Linked DNA regions of Homo sapiens: regions 1 and 2 are each linked to region 3. Evidence: fine-mapped expression QTL. A gene starts in region 3. Each other region holds a variant in brackets. All regions are shown on one strand. Distances are between the middles of the regions.

Evidence for each region.
Region 1: its variant is fine-mapped to the expression of LINC02701 in whole blood (TOPMed, PIP above 0.99).
Region 2: its variant is fine-mapped to the expression of LINC02701 in gastroesophageal junction (GTEx, PIP above 0.99).

What each region holds. Positions count from the first base shown.
Region 1 is chr11:68,826,031-68,835,899 of GRCh38, reverse strand. All of the region lies in intron 1 of CPT1A (carnitine palmitoyltransferase 1A), which reads left to right. Among named protein-coding and RNA genes, the nearest start is that of CPT1A, 11 kb to the left of the region's middle. RefSeq lists an enhancer at 9,865-9,869. The variant G/C (reference allele first, on the strand shown) is at 4,112.
Region 2 is chr11:68,989,852-68,999,720 of GRCh38, reverse strand. No RefSeq gene overlaps it. Among named protein-coding and RNA genes, the nearest start is that of MRGPRD, 14 kb to the right of the region's middle. RefSeq lists a silencer at 4,889-5,055. The variant C/A (reference allele first, on the strand shown) is at 5,767.
Region 3 is chr11:68,862,131-68,871,999 of GRCh38, reverse strand. LINC02701 (long intergenic non-protein coding RNA 2701) reads right to left here and starts at 3,640. Exons shown (of 2, transcript XR_950253.3): 1 at 1,085-3,640; 2 at 1-457.

The DNA.
Region 1 (9,869 bases), 36 kb after region 3:
TTTGCCGGAGGAGGTAAGGGCATCCTGCATACTTTATGTGAGGCAAATACTTGCTCAAGGTCACAGGTCTGAGTAATTGGTAGAGCTGGGATTTGAACCCAGATCTGTGTGTTTTCTTTCCCTTTCCCAGGCTGCTTCCCAGACCACTGGGCAGCCAGAGGGCCTGGGTTTTGGAGGCCCCCACTCCCTACCCCATGCAGACTGGGTGTGGCACTGAATCCGCCTCTAGGGTTTCTGGGTTTCCATTTCCTCATCTGTAAGGTGGTGGGTCTGAACCTGTCATTCCATGTCACACGAGTTTTGTGAGGATCCAATCAGAGGTCAGATGTGAAGAGAGTTTTGAGTGTGTAAAGTAAATACAGGCTCTAGCAAACAATGTCCTGGCTGCAGGCGGCATTTAGGGACACCAATGTATTTTGCAGTCCCCACATTAGAAGTTCAGTTCAAGTTCAGTTTGAATTAGAAGTTCAAGTTGTTATATTCTGTGCAAAGGTGAAGAATATGCATGGGAGATACAGGGGACACCGCTCCTGTTGTCTTAGGGACATTTGTGGGAACAATATACTGGTACGAAGAGGAGGTTTAGGATGTCCTTTGGGCAGGTGCAGGTCTCCTCCTTGCAGTCTGAGCTCCTGCCCGAGTGCCGATGCTGGCTAGAGGCAGGGCAGGCACAGTGGGAAAGAAGTAGCAGCTGTTAAACTTCTGGTGGGCTTCTGAATAGCTAGGTCAGATAACTGGGTCTGTCAATACGTTGGCTATCTTCTTTATAAAATTGTGAATCTTTGTGGCTTTTCCAAATTTTTTTTCTAAGATCATATTTGTCTGTATTTATCTAACCATTACTTATTGACGTGGTGCACTATAAGGTCTAAATTTGAATTGGCTTAATTTTTTTTTTTTTGAGATGGAGTCTCGCCCTATCGCCCGGGCTGGAGTGCAGTGGCGCAATCATGGCTCACTGCAACCTCCGCCTCCCCAGTTCAAGCAATTCTCCTGCCTCAGCCTCCCGAGTAGCTGAGATTACAGGCATGCACCACCATGCCCAGGTAGTTTTTGTTTGTTAGTAGAGACAGGGTTTCATCATGTTGGCCAGGCTGGTCTCAAACTCCTGACCTCAAGTGATCCACCCAGAATTGGCTTAATTTTTACAGTACTTGGTAAGACAGGGTCTCGCTCTGTCATCCAGGCTAGAGTGCAGTGGCGTGATCATAGCTCACTATAACCTCAAACTCCTGGGCTCGAGTGATACTCGCAAGTAGCTGGGACCACAGGCATGCACTACCCACACCTTGGCTAATTTTTGTATTTTTTGTAGAGATGGGGTCTTGCTACATTGCCCAGATTGGTCTCAAATACCTGGGCTCAAGCGAACTTCCTGCCTTCGCCTGCCAAAGTATTGGGATTACAGGCATGAGCCACCATACCCAGTCCAGAATTCCTTTTATTTTATTATTTTTATTTTTTGAGACGAAGTCTCCCTCTGTCACCCAGGCTGGGGTGCAGTGGCATGATCTCGGCTCACTGCAACCTCTGCCTCCCGGGTTCAAGCGATTCTCCTGCCTCAGCCTCCCGAATAGCTGGATTACAAGTGCCCACCACCACACCTGGCTAATTTTTGTATTTTTACTAGAGATGAGGTTTTGCCACGTTGGCCAGGCTGGTCTTGAACTCCTGACCTCAGGTGATCCACACGCCTCAGCCTCCCAAAGTGCTGGGATTATAGGCATGAGCCACCGTGCCCAGCCCAGAATTCCTTTTATAACCTGACGACCCATTATATTGACCCCATAAATGTGAATAGTCCATTATGATAAACTTCAGTACAGGAAATCCACTGTGTGGCCAATTTAAATAATGTGAATATTGAATGATCAGTCATGAATTCAAGACGCAACCTTTCATAATGAAAGCTCCAGGCTGGGTGTAGTGGAGCACACCTGTAGTCCCAGCTTAGGCTGAGGCAAGATGATCTCTTGAGCCAGGAGTTCAAGGTCACGCTCGGCAACAGAACAAGACCCTGTCTTATAAAAAAAAAATAATAATGAAAATCCTTCACCTTTCTTGTACATGAAACCCTCCGAAAAACATAAGGTGAGTCTTACATTCTCACTTCTAAGGTGCTTCCATCAGGTTTGGGAAACAATTTCTTTTTTTTTTTCTTTTTTGAGATGGAGTTTCGCTCTTGTTGCCCAGGCTGGAGTGCGGTGGTGGGACCTTGGCTCACTGCAACCTCCACCAACCAGGTTCAAGCAATTCTCCTGCTACAGGTGCCCACCACCACACCCAGCTAATGTTTTGTATTTTTAGTAGAGATGGGGTTTCACCATGTTGGCCAGGCTGGTTTTGAACTCCTGGCCTCAGGTGATCCGCCCACCTTGGCCTCCCAAAGTGCTGGGATTACAGGCGTGAGCCAACACGCCCAGCCAAGTTTGGGAAACAACTTCTGTTTGTGTGTATACACATTTACTGGAAAAGTACAAGGGCACCATTACAGATGTGCATATCTGCAATTGAATAACGATGTGGCTCATACAGTGCAGAGAGCGCACACCCACACTTGCCTGGAGAAGAGGAGCTGCTGCTTTTCTTCCTTCCCATTATTGCTAATTTTTGCCTGCATCTCAGTTCAGAAGAGCCATGAACTTTACTGCACATGTGTGCTAGTTCTAGGGAACCCCCTGGGCTGCTGCTGTCCTTCCAGAGCCTTCCTGGTACTTCCCTTGAAGTTCTTTGGGCAGCAGTGAGGAGGCCAGGCCAGATTTTTGCCACCTTGGACATCATGCATGTTGTGAAGGTGGTTTCCCCGAGCTGGAGCCAGTCCCGGAGGCTGGCACTAGCTTTCTAGCGAAGCAGAATCTTCCCAGGCATTGGTCACCCGGGCATCCAAGAATGTGTTGTAGATGATGAGATAACTGCCCTGCCCTTCGCCAGAGACACTGCTTCTGACCCTGCCTACAGCGCCTTCTCCAGTTTTTCCAGGGATGAGGCCCATGTCATCCAGCCTCACACTTTCTCTGTTCCTAGAGGCCCTGCCTGGTATTCCTGCTGAGCTAAGCTGTCGCTTCCCATGGGTAACATTTTCTCAGAGGATTTCCAACATAGTTGTTTACCGCTGGAGGAGATGGGCAGCTGTTAGCTAGGTTTGAATAGAAAGCAGAGCCTGCTCCTGTGTGCATGGGCACTGTGCAATGCTAGTGGGAAGACTGCAGCATGTGAATAATTTTACAGTTGGCACTGATGGTGTTTATACTTACTGGAGTTTTATTGCTGGCTGCAATCTCATCATTTTGGTTACAACAGTGACCTAATTTTATATCTGTGTTGTAACTTTAGGAATCCTAAGTAGAACTTTTTGTGTAGTACCTACCACTTTACTTTGGGAGTTAAGAGTATAAGTTTTGGAGTTGGACCTGGGTTTTTGTTTGTTTGTTTGTTTGTTTGTTTGTTTTTGAGACAGAGTCTCGCTCTGTCACCCAGGCTGGAGTGCAGTGGTGCAATCTTGGCTCACTGCAACCTCCACCTGCCAGGTTCAAGAAATTCTCCTGTCTCAGTTTCCCTAGTATCTGGGACTACGGGTGCATGCCACCAAGCCCAGCTAATTTTTTGTATTTTTAGTAGAGACAGGGTTTCACCATATTGGTCAGGCTGGTCTCGAACTCTTGAGCTCAGGTGATCTGTCCGCCTTGGCCTGCCAAAGTGCTGGGATTAGAGGCGTGAGCCACCGCACCTGGCCTGGGCCTGGGTTTGATTTCCAGCCCTGCTATTTGCTGGCTGTGACACTGGGCAAGTTTCTTGACATCTAAGCCCTGGTTTTCTCATTAGTACATGGAGATAGCCCTAGTACCCATTTCCTAGGGTGCTAGTGGGAATTAAATGATCTAATGCTAGTCAAATACATCAATATAAAAATATATATGGGTCACATTGTCTAGCATATGCCAAAGGGTTTGGTAAAAAGAATGTTCTGGGTCGGGCACAGTGGCTCATGCCTGTAATCCCAGCACTTTAGGAGGCCAAGGCAGACGGATCGCTTGGGGTCAGGAGTTCGAGACCAGCCTGGTCAACATGGTAAAAACCCATCTCTACTAAAAATACAAAATTAGCCAGGCGT[G/C]GTGGTGCGTGCCTGTAATTCCAGCTCCTGGGAAGGCTGAGGCAGGAGAATCACTTGAACCCAGGAGGCAGAGGTTGCTGTGAGCCGAGATCATGTCATTGCACTCCAGCCTGGGTGATGGAGCAAAACTTCGTCTCAAAAAAAAAAAAAAGGAATGTGCTGTAACTTCATTATTAAAAGCACAAAAAGGAATCTTTATGTCTTACCTACCTACCTTCCCACACACCTATCTATTAGTATCTCCATACGTGTTGATTGCAAGGCTGTGTTGAAAGACTTCTGCCCCACTCAGAAATTATTTACATATTTCAGTTGCTATAAAGACCATTTTCTTGGAAGTCCGTTGTCACGTATCAAGTTTTATTGTTTGTTTTATATTACAGAGGCAAGTCCCATATCTCCATTTTCCTTGGGCGTGTTTTGAAACCTGGCAATGCACGGTGCATCAAGCTGACCTTTCACCTGCTTTCCTCAGCCACCTGCCTGTCTCAGCTCTGCAGGACTGGGGGTGCAGGAGTGGGGAGGTTTGCTCAAAGGGCATAGGGACCTGTGTTGAGTGTCTTCTTGATTACATGGCCAGTGTTAGGATTCATAGGCCAATGACTTCGAAAGAGGTGAAAGGTTTTGGTTAAAAGGAATTGATTATGGAGAAAGGGAACAAAGTGAACACTTTCAAAAAACAAAGTACCAGAGCAGTTTATTGGCCAAGGATTTGGGGGATATTGAGCAAAGTTGTTAAAATGAAGTTAATCGTAAGCAAAATTGAAGATGTGTTATCACCTTCCCCCCCACGATTGTTGATGTAGCATTCAGCGTTGGAGAACTGTCCATAGTCTTCAGGATTCAATTCGGATGACACAAGGATTCATGTCCTTGAGAAGTGTATTTGGAAGACTGGACACATAACTCACAAGTGAAGGTCATTTGCCAGCTGGTGCAGGTGACATTGCTAAATGTCTCTTGTAGAATTTCTTGGGGAGTTTGGATTCGTGGGCTGCCCCCTAAAGTGCTGGGAGCTTTAAGCTAAGTATGAAGAAAGGAGAAAACAGAAATGGAAAAAGAGCTGAAGACTTCCCAGCTGCGAGCCAGTTAGTGGCATAGGTCAAGGCTGGTGGGCCTGGCGGAGGGGCAGGTGACAGGGAGAGCTGAGCTTGGAAGGTGGTAGGAACAACCATGGAATAGGTGAGCTGGAGACGGGACAGCGGATTTGTGACAATTGTGATGAAGGGGTTGCAGCCTTGGCTGGGGCCTCTTATTCTGCATCTCTGTGTGGTTCCGAGAGCAGATTAGCATAAGGTGCTTAAGTGCTATGGCACAGACCTCAGTGATGAGTCCCATCATAGCCTCCAGGATGGCATGTGGCCTGGCTCCCATGCTCCACCTGGGAGTTGGTGGGCACCCCGTGTGCTCCGGGCAAGGAGGTCTGTGTGAGCTCCCAGCAGGTGGGCTCCAGGTGGGCGATCTCCACCCCCAATCCCCCAACCCCACTCAGCCTTTCTTTTATTTTTTTTGAGACAGGGTCTCACTCTGTTGCCCAGGCTGGAGTGCAGTGGCACAGTCCGGGCTTGCTGCAGCCTCGACCTCCCAGACACAAGAAATCTTCCCACCTCAGCCCCCAGAATGGCTAGGACCACCGGTGTGCGCCACCACATCCAGCTAATTTTTTGTATTTTTGGCAGAGAAGGAGTTTTGCCACGTTGGCCAGGCTGGTCTTGAACTCCTGGACTCAAGCAATCTTCCCATCTTGCCCTCCCAAAGTGCTGGGATTTCAGGTGTGAGCCACTGCACCTGGCCTCCCACTCAGCCTTTCAGGGCTCGTGTCCACTTGGGGCAGAGGTACAGGCCAGGCCCCAGCCACCATGCCAGCTTCTCAGAAGTGATTTCTGTACTTTCAGTGAAAATAGACACATCCGCGGCCCCATGACAATGCCAGACGATGTGTTGTTTTTGGTGTGGTGGAGGCCGCCGGGGTGTTGCCGCCACCTCCGATTTACTCCATAGCTGGCCCAGGGGCACACAGCAAGGAGGGGTCTTAGCTCAGGAACAGCACCCAAGGGTCCTCCTGTTTTACTTACCCAGAGCTGCCTCCTCCACGAGTCCATTCCCAGGGCTAGTTCGGGATTCCCGTCCGAGGGCTCCGCGATGATTTGTGGGAACGAGTGAGTGACAGGGGAGAGGTTAAGTTCCCTTTTCATCCATCTGTATTTTTCTGTATTTTCTCATTTCTTCCTTTTAACTTTTCTTCCTCCTCTTTTCTGCCTTTCCAGTAAAAGCGTTCTCTCCTCTAGCCATCCTTGAACTTGGGGCACAGGTGCACGCCCTGCTGTGCAGCTTGGATCCCAATGGTCACGCTGTGTAAACTTTGTCCCCCGGGACACCACCTTTTCCCACCAGGGCTGTGATATGTCTCCGATACCTGGGCATGGAAGAAAATCACAGAAGGAGAGGGGCTGCAGATAGGCCGGCCCCTGGGGTGACGTGGATTAAAGAGCCGTTGGGCAGGTCTCTCTGGGAAGTCTCTGTATGGGGGTGGCTTGGAGAAAGGAAGGCTGGGCTGTAGAGCAGACGTGTTGCTGGTGGGACACGCGGCCCGGGGACCTTCACATCAGCAGGTTCTGGGGACTGGAGTGAACACCCCTAGTCCATCCCTGCTTCTTCCCAGGCAGGGCAGGTGCCGGCGTTCTCAGTAAGAGAAACCCTGGGGAGGATGCGGGCACGTGGACAGGTGGTGAGATTCATTGTCAGCTGGTGAAGTTTTGGCTGGGTGAAGACGTGCTTGGAAGGTCAGGTGCAGTGTGCTCAGGTTGAAGCTAAAGTCCTGGGGGGCTGGCTGACTCCCAGGGTGCAGGGGGAGCCACCTACTAGTTCAGAAGCCAGAGGGGCCCAAGGCAGCAGCAGATGGACCGGGGCCAGCTTGCGTGCCTGGTGGCCTCCCCCAGGAGGAAGAAGGAACGGGAAGTGGGGCTGGCCCACAGAGACTAACGGTTTAGTTGTACACCGTGAGTGGGATGTGGCAGAGCCCCCACCAGCCAGAGGAGGCGGACGCTTGCCCAAGCCTCAGGCCATGCCATGCCCCTGCCACCCTCCTCACTACAGCCTCAGGAAGGCTGAAGGGGTGAGCAAAGAGGCTGCCCAGTGTTGGTGGCCTGGATCCAGACGCAGGCCTGGCTGCCAGCTGGCCTAAGGGCCCTTCTCCCAGCGTGCTGGGGCTCCCAGCCACAGTGCCCAGTCTGGCAGGGTGTGCCCAAGACCCCAGGGAAGGCTTCCGGGAAGGGGAGTTGTAACACATGGGTGCCCTGGCCTCCTGCCCTCGATGAAAGGTGCTGGGGAGGGGAAGACGCAGTGAGCCTGGTGAGGGACTCCCACGCAGGTGGGAGGTGGGGGGCCCTGACCCAGGCCTGGCTGTAGCGGACAGGTGGCCCATTCTGGACACACAGAAGCGGAAGGAACACAGGCTGCAAAGTGGTGGAGTATGCCCCCCTCTCCAAGAAGCCCCTGGCTGGGGCCGATGTGGCAGCGATGGCGAGGTGGGCAGGGCACTCAGACGCCTTGGGAAAGCTGACTTGGGAGACACAGGGAGATGGGGTGTCGAGCAGCTGGTGGGACTTCAGCAAGGGCAAAGAGGGCAGGATGACCACATCAAGAAGGAGCTGGAACTTTGGTAGAGCAGGCAGGGCAGGGCAGGCATAAGGAAGTCTGCCCCAGAGGCCAGGGGTGCCCACGAACACTATGCTCTTTTTCTACTCCCATTAAAATACGATGCTGCAACATGGACAAGGCCACTGTCTGCTTCTTTGTTTGCAACAGTGAAAAAGTGAACAGAGAAGTTCCCTGAGCCCCAGCAGGGACACAAGAGCAGACTGGTTCCTGCCAGCAGGGGGGTGCAGGACAGCAGGGCCAGGGCTGTGTAGGTGGGCATGGGGCAGCTTGGAACTCAATGTGGACGAGAAGCAAGTTGCAGGACCGCGCACAGAGTAGGCAGCATTTGTGTGTGCCTCGCACGTGTATGGTGGCACTGTATGCACTTGTAGATACTCAAATACGTAGGGAAAGATGAGCCCCGCATTCTGGGGACAGGGAGAGGAGGTTGTATCTATTGCATCTTAGAAATTTTTGCAGGGCTGGGCACCTGTAATCTCAGCAGCTTGGGAGGCCAAAGAGGAAGGACTGCTTGAGTCCAGGAGTTCAAGACCAGCCTGGGCAACATAGTGAGATCCCATCTCTACAAAAACAAAAATAAACAAACAAACTGGTGGGGGTGGGGTGGGGTAGGGGGGACATTCTAAATCAATACAGCAAAATGTTAAATTTGTTGATTCCAGGAGGGTACACAGGTGTTATTCTCTGCTTGCCTGTGTGTTTGCGGTTATCTTATGATTTAAAGCATTTAAGACAGAAAACAGTCTTGCTGTATAATATAGTAAAGTTCACTGGAGCTTGTGTATGTGTATGTTTTGAGACAAGATCTCGTTCTGTCGCCCAGGCTGGAGTGCAGTGGTGTGATCATGGCTCACTGTAGCCTCAACCTCCCGGGCTTGTGTGAGCCTCGCCCTTCAGCCTCCCAAGTAGCTGGGACTACAGGTGCTCACCACCGCGCCTGGTTTATTTTTGTATTTTTAGTAGAGATGAGATTTTCCACATTGCTCAGGCTGGTCTCAAACTCCTGGGCTCAAGCGATCTGCCCGCCTTGGCCTCCCAAAGTTTTTGTGAGGCTTATCTGAGGTCCAGGAATTTATTAGTGACTGGCGTTCTTCCACCTGGACACCCCACCTCACCCCCACTCCTCCTCCCTAAGCACCAGGTCCTTGGAAGAGCTTTGCGCCCTTGGCCCTGGGCTTGTCGTCTGCCCATCCCAGTCTCAGCTGCTCACCTGCCTCACCTGGCTGCTGTCTGTTTCCAGGAAGGTGAGGTTAGCCACCTGTAGTCCCAGTCCTGTTTATGCCAGTGTGGTGAGGCCGCAGACCCGATTTACTTTGAGGAATCCCGTTTGTGCTAAGTAAAGTATGTTACAGAAAGTCACGCTGAGGGCCAGGTTGGTTTTCTTTTTTTTTTTTTGACAGGGAGTCTCACTCTCTCACCCAGTAGTGCAGTAGCCTGATCTCAGCTCACTGCAAGCTCCGGCTCCCGGGTTCACGCCATTCTCCTCCCTCAGCCTCCCGAGTAGCTGGGACTACAGGCGCCCGCCACCACGCCCGGCTAATTTTTTTTTTGTATTTTTAGTAGAGATGGGGTTTCACCGTGTTAGCGACGATGGTCTCTACCTCCTGACCTCATGATCTGCCCCCCTCGGCCTCCCAAAGTGCTGGGATTACAGGCGTGAGCCACCGCGCCTGACCTTTTTTTTTTTGAGACGGAGTCTCACTCTCTCACCTAGGAGTGCAGTGGCCTGGTCTCGGCTCACTGCAACCTCTGCCTCCCGGGTTCAAGCAATTCTCCTGCCTCAGCCTCCCAGTTAGCTGGGAATACAGGCGTGCACCACCAGATCCGGCTAATTTTTGTATTTTTAGTAGTGACAGGGTTTCACCATGTTGGCCAGGCTGGTCTCGAACTCCTGACCTACAGTGATCCTCCCACCTTGGCCTCCCAAAGTGCTGGGATTACAGGCCTGAGCCACAGTGCCCGGCCTCAGGTTGGCTTTCAGTGCGGGGGTACATCAAGGCAGGAAACGTGCTGACCACTCTCAGACTCTGGTCTGGGGCCCTCTACTCTCCAGGGCCAGGGAGGGAAGGCGGGTGTGGTGCGAATGGCTTTATCTGGT
Region 2 (9,869 bases), 130 kb before region 3:
ACGTTCCTCCCCTCAGTCCACCCTCTACGTGCCCACTTCTTTCCTAAGTATGATTTTTAAATGCTCCCAGCCAAAATCTGTAGCTGTATAATTTACAACATAAAATGCCTGCCTTCCCCACAGAAGAGAGATGACCAAAGTCAACCGCAGGGCCTGCCTCCCCAGCTCCGAGCCCACACCCTGGGTGTTACTCACGCCACCCTCCGTCAGAGCCACAAACACCTCCTCTTTGAAAGGTACTTGTAGTACTTTCTGGGGATGCTATCACCCATTCACCAATACCACAGACTGGTGGGAGCACTTAAACAATAGAAATTTTCTTTCTCTCAGTCCTAGAGTCCAGAAATCCAAAATCAAGGTGTGGCAGGGCTGGTTCCTCCTGAGGCCTCTCTCCTTGGCTTGCAGACGGCCACCTTCTCCCTGTGTCCTCACAGGGTGGTCCCTCTGTGCCTGTCTGTGTCCTCACCTCCTCTTATCAGGACTCCAATCACACTGGATTCAGGGACCATCCTAGTGACCTCATCTTAACTTCATTAACCCTTTAAAGACCCTTTCTCCAAATATGGTTACATTCTAAGGTACAGGGGGTTTGAGGGTTCAACATACAAATTTTGGGGAGACCCCGTTCAGGCCACAACAGTGCCCTTTGGCCAAATGATGGTCACTCTCCAGACACACAACACGCAATGGAAAGGAAAAAGGAAATAACAATAATTTTTTTTTAGAATTCCCACTTGGAAAGGAAAAGGAAAGAACAAAAACACGTGGTGGTTGTTGGTCTGTGGCATATTCTGTGCTAGGCAGGAAACCAGCAGCGCAACGGGGGTCTTGGTCAGCCCACCGATGTGGCGGCCAGAATCCAAGACAGCCCCCAGCAATGCCGTCTCACCCTCGTGTCATCCCCTCCCTGTGCACATGGGCTGTACCAAGTGGCTTGCTTCTAACCGATGGAACACAGCAAAGCTGATTAGGCTGCACAGCACTGTGACTTGCATCTTGCTAGCAGACTCTCTCCCTTGCTGGCTTCAATGAAGCCAGCTGCCGTGTTGTGAGCTGACATATTAGAGAGGCCCCTGTGGCAAGCCATTGAAGGCAGCTTTTGGCCAACAGCCAGCAATAAACAGAGGCTCCCAGCCTGGCAGCCGGCAAAGAAACGAGCCCGGTCAACAACCACATGAACTTGAAAGCAGATTCTTCCCGGAGGGAGGCTTCAGATAAGACATCTGCAGGGACCACTCCTGATGTCACATGTTCTTTAAAGGCCTGGGGAAGCAGAGCTGAGCTGCCTCCTGACACGTGTGGCCCAACACAGAAAGTGGGGCTTTACCAACCTCACGGTGTCATCCCACCAGGACCCAGCCAATTGCATATGTAAAGGCAGGTATTTGCAACAAGCCTCTTTGCCTCTTTCAGGTATTAGTTTCTCCACTGGTCAGGAATCTTTGTTGCAAATGACAAAAACCCCATTGAAACACACACACACACACACACACACACACACACAGAATGCACTGGCTCCTATTACTAAAAAGTCCAGGCAAAGATGGGCTTCAAGAACAGCTGGATCCAGGTGCCTGGATCTGGGGACTCTGTCAATCAACTAGCAATTAGTCAAGAAATGTGAGCATCTCTACATGCCAGGCAATGTTCTAGGCACAGAAGGCACAAAAAATGTGAGAACTGCCACCTTCTGGAAGCTTATGTCTTTCTGAGCAGCCTGTCTCTGTCTCTTGGGTCTTGGCCCATTCTCAGGCAGGATCTCCCCTCCTGGAGAAGAGACAGGCACCATAGGTCCAGCACAGCAAACCCAGAATAAAGAGGCCAGGGAAGTCCTCACTGTCACTGCAGAGTCAGCACCGCCCACACCCCTAAGACTGTCCCCCAAGTCAGTTGCCTAGGGTTACTTCTGTGATCAGCCTTAACGTCTGGGGTCCCCGCTTTTTCTTTCCTCATGCACATTTGTTCAAAGCAGATGCCCAGCATCTCCCATGCCTATACCTCCTTCCGCTGCAGGGCGGGACAGTGAGAATGAACACCATGCTAGCTCGGGGACCGTCCTAGAGACTCAGCCATCCGCTGCACCACCCATACGGCCCACCCGGCACCTGCTCCAGGCCAGCACCCTCACAGGGCAGGTGACACGGATAAGATGCCGGCCTCCATCCTGCCCTTGAGGGGACTGACACATCAGAACTCTTCCCTCGCCAGGCAGGAAGGGGGCCTCGGCCGGTGTGGGGGAAAGGGCTGCTCTACCATCTGCCTGTGTGGCATGTGTGTGAGCTCCCCTTCTTTCTAGGAATTGAGGGAGGCCCTGAGGGACTACAGGCATTTTGGTGAGGACTTTGAGGCTCAGAGACGTCACCTGAATGGTGTGGTTCCCCAACTCACAAGCAGTGGAACTCAGACTGGAAATAAGATCCTGGGCTCCGGGCCCAGCTCTTCTTCCTCCCCATCCCTCCGTAGGCAGCATCCTTAGTGAGTCCATTAGCCAGAGCATCTCCCCAGGCAGGCAGTTGGGGGTGGCTGTAATAGCCTTTCCCAGCCCACAAGAACCCCCATTTCCTCCATGGCTTCACCTGAACCCCCCACGGTGGGTCTCACTAATGCTGTGAGGTCTCCTCGGCCATCCCTGGTGGCATTCAGGAAGGGAGGTATCACCTTTCCTTGAAGGCCCCAGCCTCATCCTCCATTTCACTGCCGCCAAGCTGTCTCCTGTGGGGGCCGGGGGTTCATGCTCAGGTCCATTAGACTTCAGCTGGCTCTTCTGGGCCAGCACCGCGGTACCCACGTGCAGAGGCCCTGGCAGGCGGGGCCGGCACCCATCCTGCATTTATACCTCAGGCCCGGCTTCCCACTGCTCAGAGGGAACCTAGCGAAGATCATCAGGGGATCCTGGGGACAGGCTCCTCTGAGCCTGGGGGCAGCCCTGCCCAGCGGGAGAGAAGCAGGCAGCTCAGGCCAGAGCCAGAACAGGGCGAGCGGCTCAGGGGCCTGGGCCTAGGTGGCTGCTGAGGCCTCCAGCACTGGAGTGGGCAGGCACCAGCCACCTTCACCGAGGGACCACACACTGCATCCAAGACAGGTGAGAGGCCTGTTTTTTGCAATCTGGGTGAAGGCAGGAGAGCGTGGGGGACAGAAGCGATGCTTTGCACCCCGTGGGACGTTGGGGGAGTTCCTGTTCGGCCAGGGTAGCCAGGTAGCCCAGCAAGTGTCTCAGCTTCTCTGAGCCCAAATAAAGCAGAAATAATGAAACCCACCTCAAAAACATTCAAAGCGCGGATGAGCTCATGTCACCAACCCTGGGACCTGCCACCTCAGTGTGCAGCACAGCACGGAGAAGCGTCGGACAAGCTAAATTCAAGAAGACATAGTTTGTTTTTGAGAAAGCAAGCTTACGAGACAACCAGGCCCTATATTTTCATTTATGTAAAAAACATATATTGATAGGTAAATGCACAGAAAAAAAAATCTTCAAGGATTTATAGTGATACCTGGGGGTGAAGACAAGGGTAGACCTTCTTTCTTCTTTAGCATTGGAAGCTTTCAAAATAAGAATCTTTGCATCTTATCTGTGTCGTTTTTAAAGATGTTTAAGGCACAGGGAGAAAGGGACAACGTCATACTAGCCGTGGGAAAGAACACATTTTTGTGTCTTCAGTGGCATGGACAAAAGGTCAAGCAAGGCTTTTGAGGACAGGAATCCTAAAAGTTAACATGAGAGATTCTCTATTGGAAAACTTACTTGACATTGAATATGAGAGGACAGTTTCCAACCTAGTGCCTTCCCCAACACACACACACACACACACACACACACACACACACACACACTCACACTCCTCAACACATTCTAAAAATCAGGCTCCATTATTGGCCATAAGGCAGTGGAAATAGAAAATACTTTTAAAGGCCAGGCGTGGTGGCTCACGCCTGTAATCCCAGCACTTTGGGAAGCCGAGGTGGGCGGATCACCTGAGGTCAGGAGTTTGAGACCAGCCTGGCCAACATGGTGAAACTCCGTCTCTACTAAAAATATAAAAATTAGCCAGGTGGTGGCAGACGCCTGTAATCCCAGCTACTCGGGAGGCTGAGGCATGAGGATCACTTGAACCCAGGAGGCAGAGGTGGCAGTGAGCCAAGATCACGCCACTGCACTCTGGCCTGGGCAACAGGGCAAGACTCCATCTCAAAAAGGAAAAAAGAAAATACTTTAAAAATCTGAAATATTGTCTGGGCGCGGTGGCTCACACCTGTAACCCCAGCACTTTGGGAGGTGGAGGCGGGCAGATCACGAGGTCAGGAGATCGAGACCATCCTGGCTAACACGGTGAAACCCTGTCTCTACTAAAAATACAAAAAAATTAGCCAGATGTGGTGGCAGGCGCCTGTAGTCCCAGCTACTTGGGAATCTGAGGCAGGAGAATGGCGTGAACCCAGGAGGCAGAGCTTGTAGTGAGCCAAGATCAAGCCACTGCACTCCAGCCTGGGCAAGAGAGAGAGACTCCATCACAAAAAAAAAAAAAAAAAAAAAAAAAATCTGAAATATTTTAAACCCAACAACTAGGGAATCAAAGCATAACACGAACATACCCCACAGTGTGAAAGCTTACACACAGGAAACGCTTGGAAGGATCCATTCCCAAAGGAATTATCTCTGGTGGTGAGATTATGAGCAATTTTTCTTTTTCGGTATTTTGAGTATCTATCCAGCGTCTCCAATGTGCTCTACAGTAAACACAAATAACCTTGGTAATAAGAACAAGACCCCCAAATTTTAGGAGGTGCTCCGTCTCAGGGCTGTGCACGTTCACCTCCATGGGTCCTGACCCGGGGCGGTCACTGCTATTAACGCCTCTCCTCCCAGGGGTCTCCACGGTCTCTGATGTGTTCAGTGGCCAAGCAAAGCAGCGCTGAGCACACTAGAACACTGTAAACACCCCTTGACGCCGTGCGGCCGTCCCCGGCCTGAGTGATGATCACCTCCCCCCGCTGCGGTACCTCCTCGAGGCCTCGTTCAGCATCGATTAGTGCTGGGGGCAGGAGTTGGCATAAATCGGGGCTTCTCTTGGCTCTGATGGGGATCAGGAGCAAGCTTCAAGCTCAGAACCTCTAACAGAGCCCCAGAGCCACTCAGGGGAACCGTGGGACCCTGAGGAGGGTTGAGCAGTCTGGGGTCCCACTGTCCATCAGTCCATCAGTCCATCAGGCACTCAGCCAATAAACTCTGAGTGCTCATGATGTGCTGGGCACGGGGCCCCCTGGCTGGCCCTGGATACCCCCGCACCCTTCCTAGGAAGAGAAGGCTGAGAGCAGAGCCACCTGGGGCCGGGTCCCCGCTGTTCCTGCTGTGTCGGGCTCAGCTGGGAAGGCGTCTTGTGGGTGGGCTCCACTTGCCCTCTCCCAAGTCCAGGATCAACCCCTCAATGAGCAGTGTGTGGCGATGGCACTCTGCTCTCTATGGTGGGCACACCTGCGCCAAGGGGCATAGGAATTTCCTGTGGCCGCACAGACCGGGCAGCTTAAAGCACAAAGCTCCTCTCTCATGGTCGGGAGGCCAGAAGCCCAGAATTAGGGTCGGCAGGGCCATGCGCCCCCTGAGGCTCTAGGGAGCCCCTCCTTGCTTTTCTGGCTTCTAGTGGCTCTAGGCGTTCCTGGGATGTGGCTGCATAAACCCAGTCCCTGCTTGTGTCTTCATGAGGCCCCCTCTCCTCCCTAGGCAACTCCTCTGTGTGTCTCTTATAAGAACTGGGATTAGGGGCCAACTGC[C/A]TCATCCAGGATGGTCTCATCTCAAGATCCTTAACTCTATTACATCTGCAAAGACCTTACCTCCAAATAAGTCACATTCACGGGTTCTGGAACAGGGACCTATCTTTAGGGACCACCATTCAGCCCCCTACAGGAAACAGCCAGTGTATAACCTGCTGGTCTGCACACTCATTCATCCGTCAGCAAGTCTTGTTGAACATTTACTACCTGCAGGCATGGTACTACGTGTTAGGTTTTGTTTTGTTTTGTTTTGTTTGTTTGTTTGAGACGGAGTCTCGGTCTATTGCCCAGGCTGGAGTGCAATGGCGTCATCTGGGCTCACTGCAACCTCTGCCTCCTGGATTCAAGTGGTTCTCCTGCCTCAGTCTCCCGAGTAGCTGGGACCCACCAGCTACTCAGTGCCCAACAGGCACCCACTACCACGCCTGGCTAATTTTTGTATTTTTTAGTAGAGACAGGGTTTCACCATATTGGCCAGGCTAGTCTCGAACTCCTGACCTCGTTGATCCACCTGCCTCGGCCTCCCAAAGTGCTGGGATTACAGGTGTAAGCCACTGTGCCTGGCCTAGTGTTAGGTTTTTTAAAGGGGAGGTGAGGGTTAAGGAAAGACACACACACACAGAGAGAGTGGCGGCTCTACAGGAAACGCAGGTATATTGTAAAAACCTGCGGAGGTGGGGGACCAGCTTGATGCCAGAGCCCACCACCGCTTACAGGCTGGGGTACTTATAGGTATGGGTGGGAGGGGTCTGGGCAATATGGCTTGCTGCCTGGCAGGATATTGATAAGATCATGGGGGTGTTGCTTGCACTTTCTCCCAGCAGAATATGATAAGAGGCAGGCTGTTTCTCACAGCCCAAATCCCCGTGGAATGTTTCACTTTCACCAGGGTCTGCGCAGTGGCAGGGGGCTTACGAAACGGTGCAGCTGGACTCACACTAGGGACCAGGTGGACAGACAGAGGGATCAAGTCAGACGCGGTGCCCACCCATCCAGCCGACATGCTGGCTGAACTCACTCCATCTGCAGAGACGAGGGAAGGAGGGCCGGGAGTTCAGGAGTTCATTAAGCGCTGCGGGGCGCTTAATCCAGGGGCCAAGCCACAAACATTTATTGAGCACCACTGTATGCCAGCCCCTGATTCAGGGGTGGCAGAGACACGTACTCTCCCCCACCCTCCACCTCCCCACTCACCCCTGCATCCTGAAGCTCACGTCACTGCAGAGAAGCCAGGCATCTCCACTGATGTGGCCAGTTTTCACGTATGTGTTGGCTTTTACTAGAAAATAGCCACAGCTCATTATTCTACTTCGGCTGGGATAAGGGCTCCTGTCTCTCAACCCCTCCACCCCAAGTACCTCTTCCTTTCCTCAGCCCCAATACTTGACACTCTCCTGCTATCAAGGAGCAAGAGGATGCCAGGGAGTGTCACCTCCCCCCCTCAAGTCCCTGGCTGACCCACGCCTGGTTCTGCGCCTCCTCCTGATGATGTTGATGTCTCAGCTCCTAGCTGGCCAAGCTCCCGACTGTGGGCTAGGTCCCCTCTCCTCTCGACACCTCCCCAGGAAATCATTCCTGCAGCTGCGGCCTCTCCCACGCATCAGGAGTCCCCTGTCCACTGAATCACTATCCTCGAATACAGCACACAATCACGTCGTTCCAGTAAATGGAGAGATCAGCCTCCCTGTCATTTCTCTGTTCCCCTACCCCACCCATGACCACACATTCCTTCGAATGTCACCTGCACTCTCTCAGGGGTCCCTGCAGCTGAGCATCTCCCCACCGGGAGGGGTCCTCTGGGGCCATCTCCCTAACACACGCCCCACCTCCAACCCTTATCCCTTTGCAACCCATCAGGGTTCCGCATAAAGGCCCCCATCAAGGCCGGGCACGGTGGCTCACACCTGTAATCCCAGTACTTTGGGAGGCCCAGGTGGGCGGATCACCTGAGGTCAGGAGTTCAAGACCAGCCGGGCCAACATACTGAAACCCTGTCTCTACTAAAAATACAAAAATTAGCTGGGCATGGTGGCGTGTACCTGTCATCCCAGCTACTGGAGAGGCTGAGGCAGGAGAATCATTTGAACCCAGGAGGCGGAGGTTGCAGTGAGCTGAGATCGCGCCACTGCACTCCAGCCTGGTGACGGAGCAAGACTCCGTGTCAAAAAAAAAAAAAAAGGCCCCCATCACAGCTCTCGCCATCACCCTCACAGGTGCCAGGCTGAAGCCACCTTGCTGTCCCTGCTCAGGGACCGTCTCTCCTGCAGAACGGCATCCACAGGTGCAAGGAGGGGCCTGTCTCTTTCTCTCCAGCACCCTGGTACCTGGAATAGCCCCTGACACACTGCGGGCCCTTGGGAAATGTCTGCAAGGGGCTCCCTGGTGACCCCCAAGAGGAAGCCAGGCGCCCTGAGGGCCTCTGAGCCCCACTGGACATCACCACCCTGTCCAGACACCCAGAGCAGAGTGGGGGATGGGGAAGGTGGCAGGTGGGGGACAATGGCCTGGGAAGACCCATCAGAAGTATAAGTACAAGGACCGTGGGACAGCAGCATGTGTCTGCACCCTCCTCTCTCAGAGCTTCGGGGCCCCTGGTCTCCCTTCCCCACAGAGCACTGCCCAAACACCCCTGAATCCACATGGAGTAGACCCGCGTCGTCCTGCAGCGGTCATGTGGGTGCACAGGTGACCCAGAGGCAGAGGCCAGGCTCCATGGCATTAGAAGGGGGTTCCCCAACAAGCTGGAGAGGGATCAGGCAGCCGGTGCCCAAGCCCGCCTGGGAAGGGCCTGACCCTGGTACCCAGCCACGTGCACGCACACTTCTCCTGCAGCCAGCACCCCGCTCCCTCACCTGGCTCCCCCCAGCTCCCCTTCCCACCTGAGTCCTACCCTCTGAGTCCCTCACCTTGTTAGACACACCCTGAGCTGTAGGGTAGGACTGCCTTTAACTGTGTGTTTCCTACCCACAACTGTGAGTTCGTGGTCATCGTTATATATGTGCTCGGTGTGTCCGTGTACATGGGTATACATATATGTGTGTTTACTGTGTATAGGTATATGTGCTGTGTATAGAGCTATGTGCTCTATGTGTATATATGTGCTACATATGTATATATGAATATATGCTATGTGTGATATGTATATATGTCTATGTGCATATGTGTGTGTGCACTATTATATATGTATATGTGTTTTTATATATATGGAATGTATGTATCTGGCACATAGTATGAGTTTGGTAAATGTTTAAATCTGTTTTAAACCTGAGGGGACATTTCCAATTATAGTGACCTGTGGAGATTGGTAACTCTGGGACATGGGTCTGTGCTCCCACCGTGGAGACCAAAAAATGTTGGAGAAAACACAATTCCCCTCCCGCCCCACCCAAATAAAATACTGAGTAGAAAGATGACAGACAGGAAGAGAAATCTTCAGGTGCCACAAATGAATCAGCAACCAGAGCTGACGCCGGGGGCCCAGGGTGCACCAGATGAGACACAGGCTCCAGGGGCTAGGGGTGGGAGGGCTAGAGGTTAGGAGGTGGTCTTGGAGTGCATCAAGTTGGGGAGGGAGTTTGAACAGGGGAACTTGCATGAGGCCAGGGCCCAGGGAGCTGCCCAGAGGAAGCAGTGTTCTGCCCAGGGTGCTGTTAGGAGCTCCACCCCACCTGTAACTGGGTGTGTGGATGTGTGGGCGTGCAGGTAGAGTTGGGCACCAATTTGAGTAGCTAGAGCCCCAAATTTGCACCATTCACAGGTGTAGGATCTGAATTTACTACCACTTGCATGATGCCAAATCTCCTAGCCAAGAAATCCATCAAAAACCTGGTCCTGGACCTGTGAAATCCTTTGAATATCCACAGAGGCCAATGCCAAATGCCTGGGTAGCAAAACCTTTATGACAACGTGGGGCTCTCACAAGAAAAAGTAATGATATCCCTGTAGAAGGAAACCGGTAATTGCAAACTTAAAAATAAAAAATAAAGAGCCAGTCACGATGGCTCACGCCTGTAATCCAGCACTTTGGGAGGCTGAGGTGGGCAGATCACTTGAGGTCAGGAGTTCAAGACCAGCCTGGCCAACACGGCAAAACCCCATCTCTA
Region 3 (9,869 bases):
TCATAATAAGTATAGTGCAATAGGGTTCTAGTTATACTGTTCCCTGACCAAGTAGTATGTGTACAGTGGGGACACCTTCTGTAGGTGTTTCTTCTACATGGTTAAGGGGGGTAACAACAAAACAATGTACAGCATATTCATATCCAGCAAGGACAAAAAAGGTCCTTACCTGGGAAAAAGGTTGAGCACAGCGACAGAACAATAGTAAAACAGTTAGTGTACACGAAAACCACTAGTCTTAAGATTTTAGCTACATTACTTGCTTGACAAGTCCTCAAGTTTCAGCCGTGCGTAGACTAGTCAGCCTCCAGAGTGACTAGAGCAGGGCTGTTGTCCTCAGCAGCAACTCGGTCTCATCTAAGGATCAGCCAGGTTGGATGATCTGGGTCCTGCTGGCTGGTTCACTTGTCCTGAGCTGCCAGTGTTAGCCGACTGTGGTGGATCCAAGACATAACACCTGCAAGTTAAACAGCAGTGGGAATGGACAAGATTACGATATAGGACCCATCCTATATGGATCCTAGAGAAATTAGGTTTTACTTTCTAACCTAAACAGCGTCACTAGATTTAAAAGGGTGTCGGGCTTATAGGCATTTTCATGTACCTAATTATGAACACTTTGGCTGTTTCAAAAACCTGCATTTGCTTTCTTAAAGTTAATTCCCCTAGTTCCTGGAGGTCACCTTTAATTTGACCTATGATGTAGGAGTGGCCGACCAAAAAAAATCTTATAGGGCAAATACCCAGTTTGTTTGGTGGGGGTGCACCTGACTCAGAGGAGGACCATAGCCAAAAACCTGATTCTATCTTAAATGAATTTCCTGGCAATATTTCTTCAGTAGCTGCTCGAGTGTCCGGTTCACGCCTTCCACCTTCTCCTGAACTTTGCAGCCAGTAGGCCGTGTGTAACTTCCATTTTATTTTTAACAGTCTTGTTAAATCTCGCACTATTTCAGCTACAAATGCTGGCCTATTGTCTGACTTTAAAGTTAGAGGCAGTCTAAACCTGGGAATAATGTCTTTTAACAGTACTTTAGTCACTTCTTGTACTTTTTCTGTCCTGGTGGGGAAAGCTTTAACTTACCCTGAAAAGGTGCAAACAAGCACTAGCATGAACCAATAACCTCCGGCACGGGGAGGTTCTGTGAAGTCTATAAGCAAGTTTTCACCAGGCAGGGCTCCTTCTCCTGCTGTTTCCCAGAGGAGGGGTTCTTTTTCTTCCCCTTTTGTAACTCCATCTAGTGGCTTAGCCATCAGTGAGAAATTGGAATCCAGATACAGCAGAATCCTGCTGCCTTTAACTTCTAATGTGACCATGGGCCCCTGGGTGCCTAATGAGAAGGTTCCCGGTCTGTCCTGTTCCTTACGTCCTTCGGCTCCTGCCAGCCTGATCAGATCAGTATTTGGTTCCCCAAGGTGCGGCAGCCCTTGGCCGATGGCCTCTTTGTCTCGTGGTCTTGGCTATTTCCCTCATTGCCTTCTGAACACTCATCCTTCCAGTGTCCTTTCTTTTTGCATCGCGCACATTAATCTCTTTCTTTTTCTTTTTCTTTTCTTTTTTTTTTTTTTGAGACGGAGTCTCGCTGTGTCTCCCAGGCTGGAGTGCAGTGGCGCGATCTCGGCTCACTGCAAACTCCGCCTCCCGGGTTCACGCCATTCCCCTGCCTCAGCCTCCCGAGTAGCTGGGATCACAGGCGCCCACCTTGTCTGGCTCTTGAATCCATTCCTAACTTGACTTTTTTCCACGTCTACGTCCGCATCCACGTCCTCTCACATTGCTAATCTCCCTTTCCATAAGAGCTGTTGACAACAGATTGGCCTTTTTCTTAAGCCTTCAATTTACTTTCCTTTTTCTTTCCTGAGTTCTGCTCTTGCGGCCAGCCGGTGGGGCCGGACAACGGCACGGGCCCCGCCCCCGTGCACTGCCGCCTGTCTCTCCTGTTTTTTTCTGATTTCCTTTTTACTTTCTTCTTTCCCTTCTCACACTTACTGTTACTTTCTCCTTTCCTTTTCCTTTGCTCTTCTCCTGGCGCCAAGTCCCTGGCCCCTTCTTTTTCCAGATAGAGCCGGGCTGGGGAGAGGAACTTAATGGTGGGCGTGCTTAGCTGCCGCGCTTGTGGCTTTTGCTCTTTCCCGTTTTGTTCCTTGGTCACAGTTAACATACACCGTGGTGGCCACTTTTATGGACTGGGTGGTATTCATGCCTGCAGCTTCCACTTGATGTCACCCTGGGCTTGCCCTACGAATGAAGTATTCCCCATAGGCTGATGTTCAGCAGCCTCACAGTTAAATGGGGTACAAAGCCGGAATGCTTCACAGAGTCTCTTATAAAACTGACTTAGGCTCTCATCAGCTCCTTGAAGCACTTCTGAAATCTTCTTTATATTCATTGCTTTCCTTCTACCAACTCGTAGCCCCTGCAGAAGTGCCTCTTGGTACCTCTGCAAACGCTGAAGCTGAGTTTCATCCTCTGGGTCCTAGTTGGGATCCTGGTCATCATAATAGATAGGTCCTCGTGTCCCCCTGAGAGGCATTTGCATAGCTCCAGCACGGCCAGATCTGAGATGGCCCACTTGACTATCTTGACCTCCTTCCTGGCCTCTCAAGGCTCTGATCCTCCCCTTCGAGGTGAGACCTGGGGCATGTTAGCTCCTGAATCTGGTTCCTGGGGGGGCTGTCGGCCTCGGTAAAGCGGGGGTAGGCTGGGATATATGGAGGAAGAATTTCTGTTACCTTTGGTGGCTCCTGTAAAACTGGCTTCTCTTGCTGTCTCTGGGATTCCCTTTTAACTCTGTGTCTGCCGGCAAAGCTGCTCTTATTTTCACTTTTGGTTTTTTTTGCAATAAGCTGTTAAACAGGCCTGGATCAATGCTGGGTTTGGCTATATTATATTTAACTATGAGTCAATATAAAGAAATTGATCCAGGTACACTGGCTGTTCTCCAACCCTTGTCACCACCTTAAATACATGGCCAATTGTTCCCTGTCTGTAGTTCCTTCGGTCAGCCATCCAACACCAGAAGAGGGCAATTCTAATTCACCCAGAGTTCTCAACCTCTGAGGGGGTTAACTCTATAATCCCCTGCAAAACCTTTCTTAAGGTTCCGTAACATGCACTCCCACAGAGTAAGTTTTGATGTTTTGATGACTTTCCTCCCATTCCTCCCTTTACAACGCAGCACATTCACTCTTGCCTACTCACTCTTCCTCTCGTTTCGACCAACCACACTGTCTCCTATTATGGGGGTTTTCAGATGCTGCTTGGCTTTGGAGAGGTCCTTATTCCTGCTGCAACTCTGAGCTGTAGGGCAGCTCCTATTAGCCATATGCAGATCACCACTAGTCTTAGTCGGCCCCACCCTTTCTCGGAGCACACAGTCTACACTAAGGGATCTGTGACTCTTCACTTCGCAGCTGATGCGCCTAATGAGGCCTTTTCATTCACACACTTCCACACACCTTCAGTTCCCATGTTTGTAACTGGGGTGGCAAGCCACTCTCGCCCCCTCTAGTTCCCAGTTGGGGTGGCGAGCCACTCTTGCCACCTCCAGTTCCCTAGCCGACTTGGCGAGCCACTCTTGCATCCTGTGTCGGCGGGGTGTGAGTTTCATCCAAATTGACAAGCCACTCCAGTCACCCCCAGCCCCTCTGGTTCGGACTATTTGGCACACCCCGGGAGATGATCAGGCTCCCTTCTGTCCAAGGGACGGGTCCTGCCTTGAGCCCCCAAAACCTTACTGTGGTTCCTGAAGCGCGTTGTTTCTGAAATCATCCTGTAGTCCCTCTTTAGGTTCCGTTTCGCTGCTGGGTAGGGGTGCCAGGTCACAGGAGAGCTGATCTCCCCCCCAGGCTGAAGTTCTCCCGGTGGCACCTGGGGTCACAGGTTTCCTGAGACCCTCGCTCCAGCCCCCAGAGGCAAAGGAGACAGTAAGCCTGCCGTCTCCAGTCCCTTCGTGGTTGCCAAAAATGTTGCGGTAAACTGAGGAACGGAAAAACCAATTTGCAGTACAGAAGGATTTGTTTATTTTAGGTACGCACCGGCTCAGAGGATTCACATCCAAAAGCTGAGCCCTGAACAAAGAGCAGTGTTTTTATAAACAGCCTTACAGGAGCAAAATAAAAGCAGTAGCAAAATAAAAGCAGTTAATCATACAGTAACAGGTCACGTAATCTATAGCATAACATAATTTGTGACCTAGCCAGTGGCCTTGTAGCTGCATTGAAAGAAAAACAAGAACTGGCTAAATACAGACATTTGTAAAACATAATCATGCTAATCATGCTTAAGAAGCCTGGGAAAAGAGTAACAGTAAAAGAACCTGTCTTTCTTTTTTTTCTTTCAAGCTTGCTCTGGAAGGGAGGGGGGTGTCTGGAGCCCATTCCTTTGGCCTTGGCTATTTGGACAGCGTTATCTTCTAACTGTCCTTAAAGTGAGCTGCTAGGCAAGAGGAAAACTTGTTCTTTTCTTTTTAGCCTTTGCCTTGCCATATTCTGGGCCTTAGCTTTTACTTTTCTTGGCGTGAATAAATGCAGTACTGATTATTATTATTATTATTATTTAAATTTCTGCCTCATGATAGCAAGTGAGTAAATGCCCCTAGTCAGTGTCTCTCTTGCACCGTCTGAGGCATAAAATGCCAATAAGGACAGTGCTGTCAGCCAGCAACAGAGACAGACATTGCTGCTGGCTGTGTGGCCAATTCCCTGGGGTAGGCCCTGGACACAGCTGCAAGTCAGGCTGATGCCGGAGCCCTGGGTGTCGGCTCGGGACTGGGCTTGGCTTGCCTGGTGGTGGATGCAAATGCTCAGAGTGCATAAAAGAAGGAGAACAGAAGACACTGCACCAATTTGGATGGTGGGGTCACATTTCCTCAGCCCGAGGAACATCCTGTGCACCCCATCATGTCCAACGATGGGCAGAGAGTTATCCTCAGGGGAATAGTTGGGCAAAAAATTGGAATGGGCAATTGAACTGAAACATGGGTTGTCTAAAACACGGGGAGATAGGCCAGGCGCAGTGGCTCATGCCTGTAATCCCAGCACTTTGGGAGGCCAAGGCAGGCAGATCATGAGGTCAGGAGATTGAGACCGTCTTGGTTAATGCAGTGAAACCCCGTCTCTACTAAAAATACAAAAAACAAATTAGCCATGCGTGGTGGCAGGTGCCTGTAGTCCCAGCTACTCGGGAGGCTGAGGCAGGAGAATCGCGTGAACCCGGGAGGCAGAGCTTGCAGTGAGCCGAGATTGGGCCACTGCACTCCAGCCTGGGAGACAGAGCGAAACTCTGTCTCAAAAACAAAAAAACAAAAAACACACACACAAAAAAAAACACGGGGAGATAAAGCCATAAAGGGCTGGCCTACATGCCTTCACGGGTGTGTGTGTGCCTGTGCGTGTGTGCGCATGTGTGTGCATATGTGTGCATGCGTGTGCTCACACTCAACATGAATGGGGCTAGAGGAGAGTCCCCACTAGACATTCCTCTAGTGGAATCTGGGGAGGAGAAGGCAGGGGCGATGCTGGAATGATGACTCTCTCTTTATATATATATATATATATATATATTTTTTTTTTTTTTTTTTTTTTTTTTTTTTTTGAGACGAAGTTTTGTTCTCGTTGCCCAGGCTGGAGTGCAATGGCACGATCTCGGCACACAGCAACCTCCGCCTCCCGGGTTCAAGCCATTCCCCTGCCTCAGCCTCCGGAGTAGCTGGGATTACAGGCATGCGCCACCACGCCCAGCTAATTTTGTATTTTTAGTAGAGGCAGGGTTTCTCCGTGTTGGTCAGGCTGGTCTCCAACTCCGGACCTCAGGTGATCCACCCACCTCGGTCTCCCAAAGTGCTGGGATTACAGGCGTGAGCCACTGCACCCGGCTACTTTTTTTCTTTTAAAGAGTAAGAAATCAAAATGAAAATAGGGCCCAATGGTGTGAGAACAGCAACAAAAAGGTAGAGAGTAACTGACCAAATGCAGACAGAAGGGAAGGAAGGAAGGAGAGGAGAGGAGAGGAGAGGAGAGGAGAGGAGAGGAGAGGAGAAGGGGAGGAGAAGGGGAGGAGAAGGGGAGGAAAGGAAAGAGGAAAGGAGGGAGGGGAAAGGGGAGGGACAGAGGGAAGGTAGGAAAGGAGGGAAGATAGGAAAGGAGGGAAAGAAGGAAGCAAAAGGCATGGGAATTGTGGTACAGGATGTACAGTGTAGAACAGGCGAAAGGAAACTACCGTATTGGTAATCCTCCGGAGCAGTTTACAGGTAAAGCAGCCTGGCGGGCTGTTGGCAGTGCCCAGTGCCGGTAGCAGTGGGAGGCTTTCGGGAAGGCCCAGAGCTCCCACAGGCCAGGGTGGTCAGAAGGCTGGGGCCGAGGAGGGCCTGCTGGTGTTGCTGTGACAAGGCACGGGCCCGGAGTCCTGTCCTTCATCCTGGCATCCTCTCAAGACAAAGCCCACCAGTGTTGACCCACCTGGACGTGGGGGATAGAGCACCTAAGGGCCTCTAAACACCCTGTCACCCCTAGAGACTCCTCCCCAGCCCTGCCTCCTTCTTGTCACGTCCCCAGCCTTCCACGTGGCCACGTGCACCTGGCACCTGGGACCAGTGGTCATTATCTTTCCCTGGAGCGTGGGGAGAAGCTCAGGTCAGGTGTAGGGCTGGAGAGGAGGCCTGTTTTGCGGCCTCTGCAGTGTGTGCCCCTGCATGCGTATGCGCGTGTGTGAGGATGGGGCACCTGCAAGCCCAGGACTGCCACCTGCAGCCACCCATCTTACCTGGTGTCTTTGCAAGGGGGAAGGGCTTGCCCGAGTCAAGGTGGAGCAGTGAGGCCCCTGCCTATTTTCACTGTTTCTGGACTCTTTTGCGGTAGCCTATGACCACGGGTGTGATCATTTCACACTTCTTTCATTTCTTTCACTTTTTTTTTTTTCGAGATGGAGTCTCACTCTGTGCCCCAGGGTGGAGTGCAGTGGTGCGATCTCGGCTCACTGCAACCTTTGCCACCCAGGTTCAAGCGATTCTCCTGCCTCAGCCTTCCGAGTAGCTGGGATTACTGCATGCCCAGCTAATTTTTGTATTTTTTTTTTTTTAGACGGAGTCTTGCTCTGTCGCTAGGCTGCAGTGGCGCAATCTCGGCTCATTGCAACCTCCACCTCCCAGGTTCAAGTGATTCCCCTGCCTCAGCCTCCCAAGTAGCTGGGACTACAGGCATGTGCCACCACACCTGGCTAATTTTTTGTATTTTAGTAGAGACAGGGTTTCACCACGTTGGCCAGGATGGTCTTGATCTCCTGACCTCATGATCCTTCTGCCTTGGTCTCCCAAAGTGCTGGGATCACAGGTGTGAGCCACCACACCCGGCCTTTGTATTTTTTTAGTAGAGACAGGGTTGCACCATGTCGGCCAAGCTGGTCTCTAACTCCTGACCTCAGGGGATCCACCCGCCTTGGCCTCCCAAAGTGCTAGGATTAGAGGTGTGAACCCAGCCTCATTTCTTTCACTTTTTAGCTTAAATCCCTCCTTTAACCTTGTCATACATCACTGCAGCTGTGAAATCGTAGCCTCGATGTCACAGCTACTTATTGATACACATTAAAATAAATACCTGGCTGTGGATATAAAGCCCATGTGTTCATATCTCACCTGAGTCACATCTGGTGTCCCCAGCACCACTCAGACCACCTGCTGGGCTGTTGTGGCCGTCAGAGTGGAGCAGAGCTGGGTTGGGTTCCAGTTCTGTTGCTCATCTGCTATGGGATTTTTCAGCCAGTCCTCACCCTTCTCTAAGCCTCAGTTTCCACACCTGGGAAGTGGAGGGCCCCTGGCAGGTAAGGTTACAGAGAGGCCAGTTCTCCCACTCCGCCTGCCTTGGAACTACTGTCAGTCACTCTGGAGGTCCCTGCCTCCACCAGAGAAGCCTGCAGAGTTGAAGGGGGTTGAACTATCCTTGCTGCAGAAGCCTCCTGAATTCTGCAGGAAGGGAAATGGCTGAGGGCAGGCTATTGGGTGCTCCCACAGCAAACTCCACAAAGGTACTGAGTACTTTAGGATCTGAAGGAAGAGGGAATATTTGTTTCCTTCACAGCCACAAAAGGACCTTTCCAAAAATAGCCACCTCTTAGGTCCAAGCAGAAATATCTGAGCCACGCTTGGAGGGTTAGTATTTTTTTTTTGGCATTATGATGATTCAACTTTTCAGAAAGAAAATCAAATGGAAAGTGCATGTCATACCTAGCAAGCCTTGTGAACAAGATTGGGCAAATTGCTTCCAAATTCTTAACATTCATAACCTTTGGTCTGGAGATACCAGTTCTAGAATTTGTTGTAAGGAAATAGTCAAGTATATGAAGATATCTGTATGTATGAGAATGCTCTTCCTAGCCGAAGTAGCAAAAATGGGATAAACATGGATGTCTAACAGTAGAGGAATGCTCAAATAATTACAAGGCAGCCATATGGTGAGAAGCACCAGGCAATCATTACCAAAAAGCAGAAGGGCTGCTGCCTGGGGAGGGGGTGGCAGGAGGGAAACACCCCAATGGGGTACGAGGAACTTTTGGGGGCGATGGATGTGTTCACTATGTTGGTTGTGGTCATGGTTTCCCAGGTATATACAGATGTCAAAACTTATCAAACTGTACACTCTAAATATGTATAGTTTACTATATATCAACTATATCTCAATAAATATGTTTTTTAAGAAACCATGCAGTTATTAAAAACCATGCTTCAGAAATATTTAATAAAATAGCAAATGATACGGAAATAACATCAAGTGAAAGGTGAGGGAAAATAATACAGGTTTTTGGAGAACAATTCGTCAATTTGCAGCAAATTTTTTTTTTTTTTGAGATGGAGTTTCACTCTGTCACCAGGCTGGAGTACAGTCCCACGATATTGGCTCACTGCAACCTCCACCACCTGGGTTCAAGTGATTCTCCTGCCTCAGCCTCCCAAGTAGCTGGGATTATAGGTGCCCGCCACCACACCTGGCTAATTTTTGTATTTTTAGTAGAGACTGGGTTTCACCATGTTGGTCAGGCTGGTCTCAAACTCCTGACCTCAGGTGATCCACATGCCTCAGCCTCCCAAAGTGCTGGGATTATAGGTGTGAGCCACCACGCCCAGCCAATTTGCAGCAAAATTTGAACTGTCCATAACCTTAGGCCCCCCAGTTTCCCGTCTGGGTCTTATCTTATCAAGTGAACAGTTTTAAAGATCTTGCCTGCAGCTCCTCGGTACCATTAGAGCCCAAATCCAAGCCAGACTCCACAGTTACCTACTAGGTCCTACCTGGGCTGGCCCCTCCAGGAACCCATCCCTGTCCTCCTTGCTTCCCCAGCACCTACAGCCGCACTGGCCTTGCTGTTCTGGGAATGAGCCAAGCTTCCTCCCACCTTGAGACCTTTGCACATGCAGCTCTCTCCGTCTGTGGTCTCTGTGTATGGAGGAGACTGTGCCTCCTGTCTTCAGTCTCTGCAAATGTCACCTCCCCACACTGGGCTAACTGCCCGACCAAATCCTTTCCTCCAGGTTGCCAGGGACACACACGGCACAACCTTGGGAAAAATCGAAGAAAGTTATGCATATTTCACGTCCGACACCAGAATAAAATCCACGTGGATCCAAGTTTTCTTTTTCTTCTTTCTTTTTATTTATTTATTTATTTTTTATTGATCATTCTTGGGTGTTTCTCGCAGAGGGGGATTTGGCAGGGTCATAGGACAATAATGGAGGGAAGGTCAGCAGATAAACAAGTGAACAAAGGTCTCTGGTTTTCCTAGGCAGAGGACCCTGAGGCCTTCCGCAGTGTTTGTGTCCCTGGGTACTTGAGATTAGGGAGTGGTGATGACTCTTAACGAGCATGCTGCCTTCAAGCAT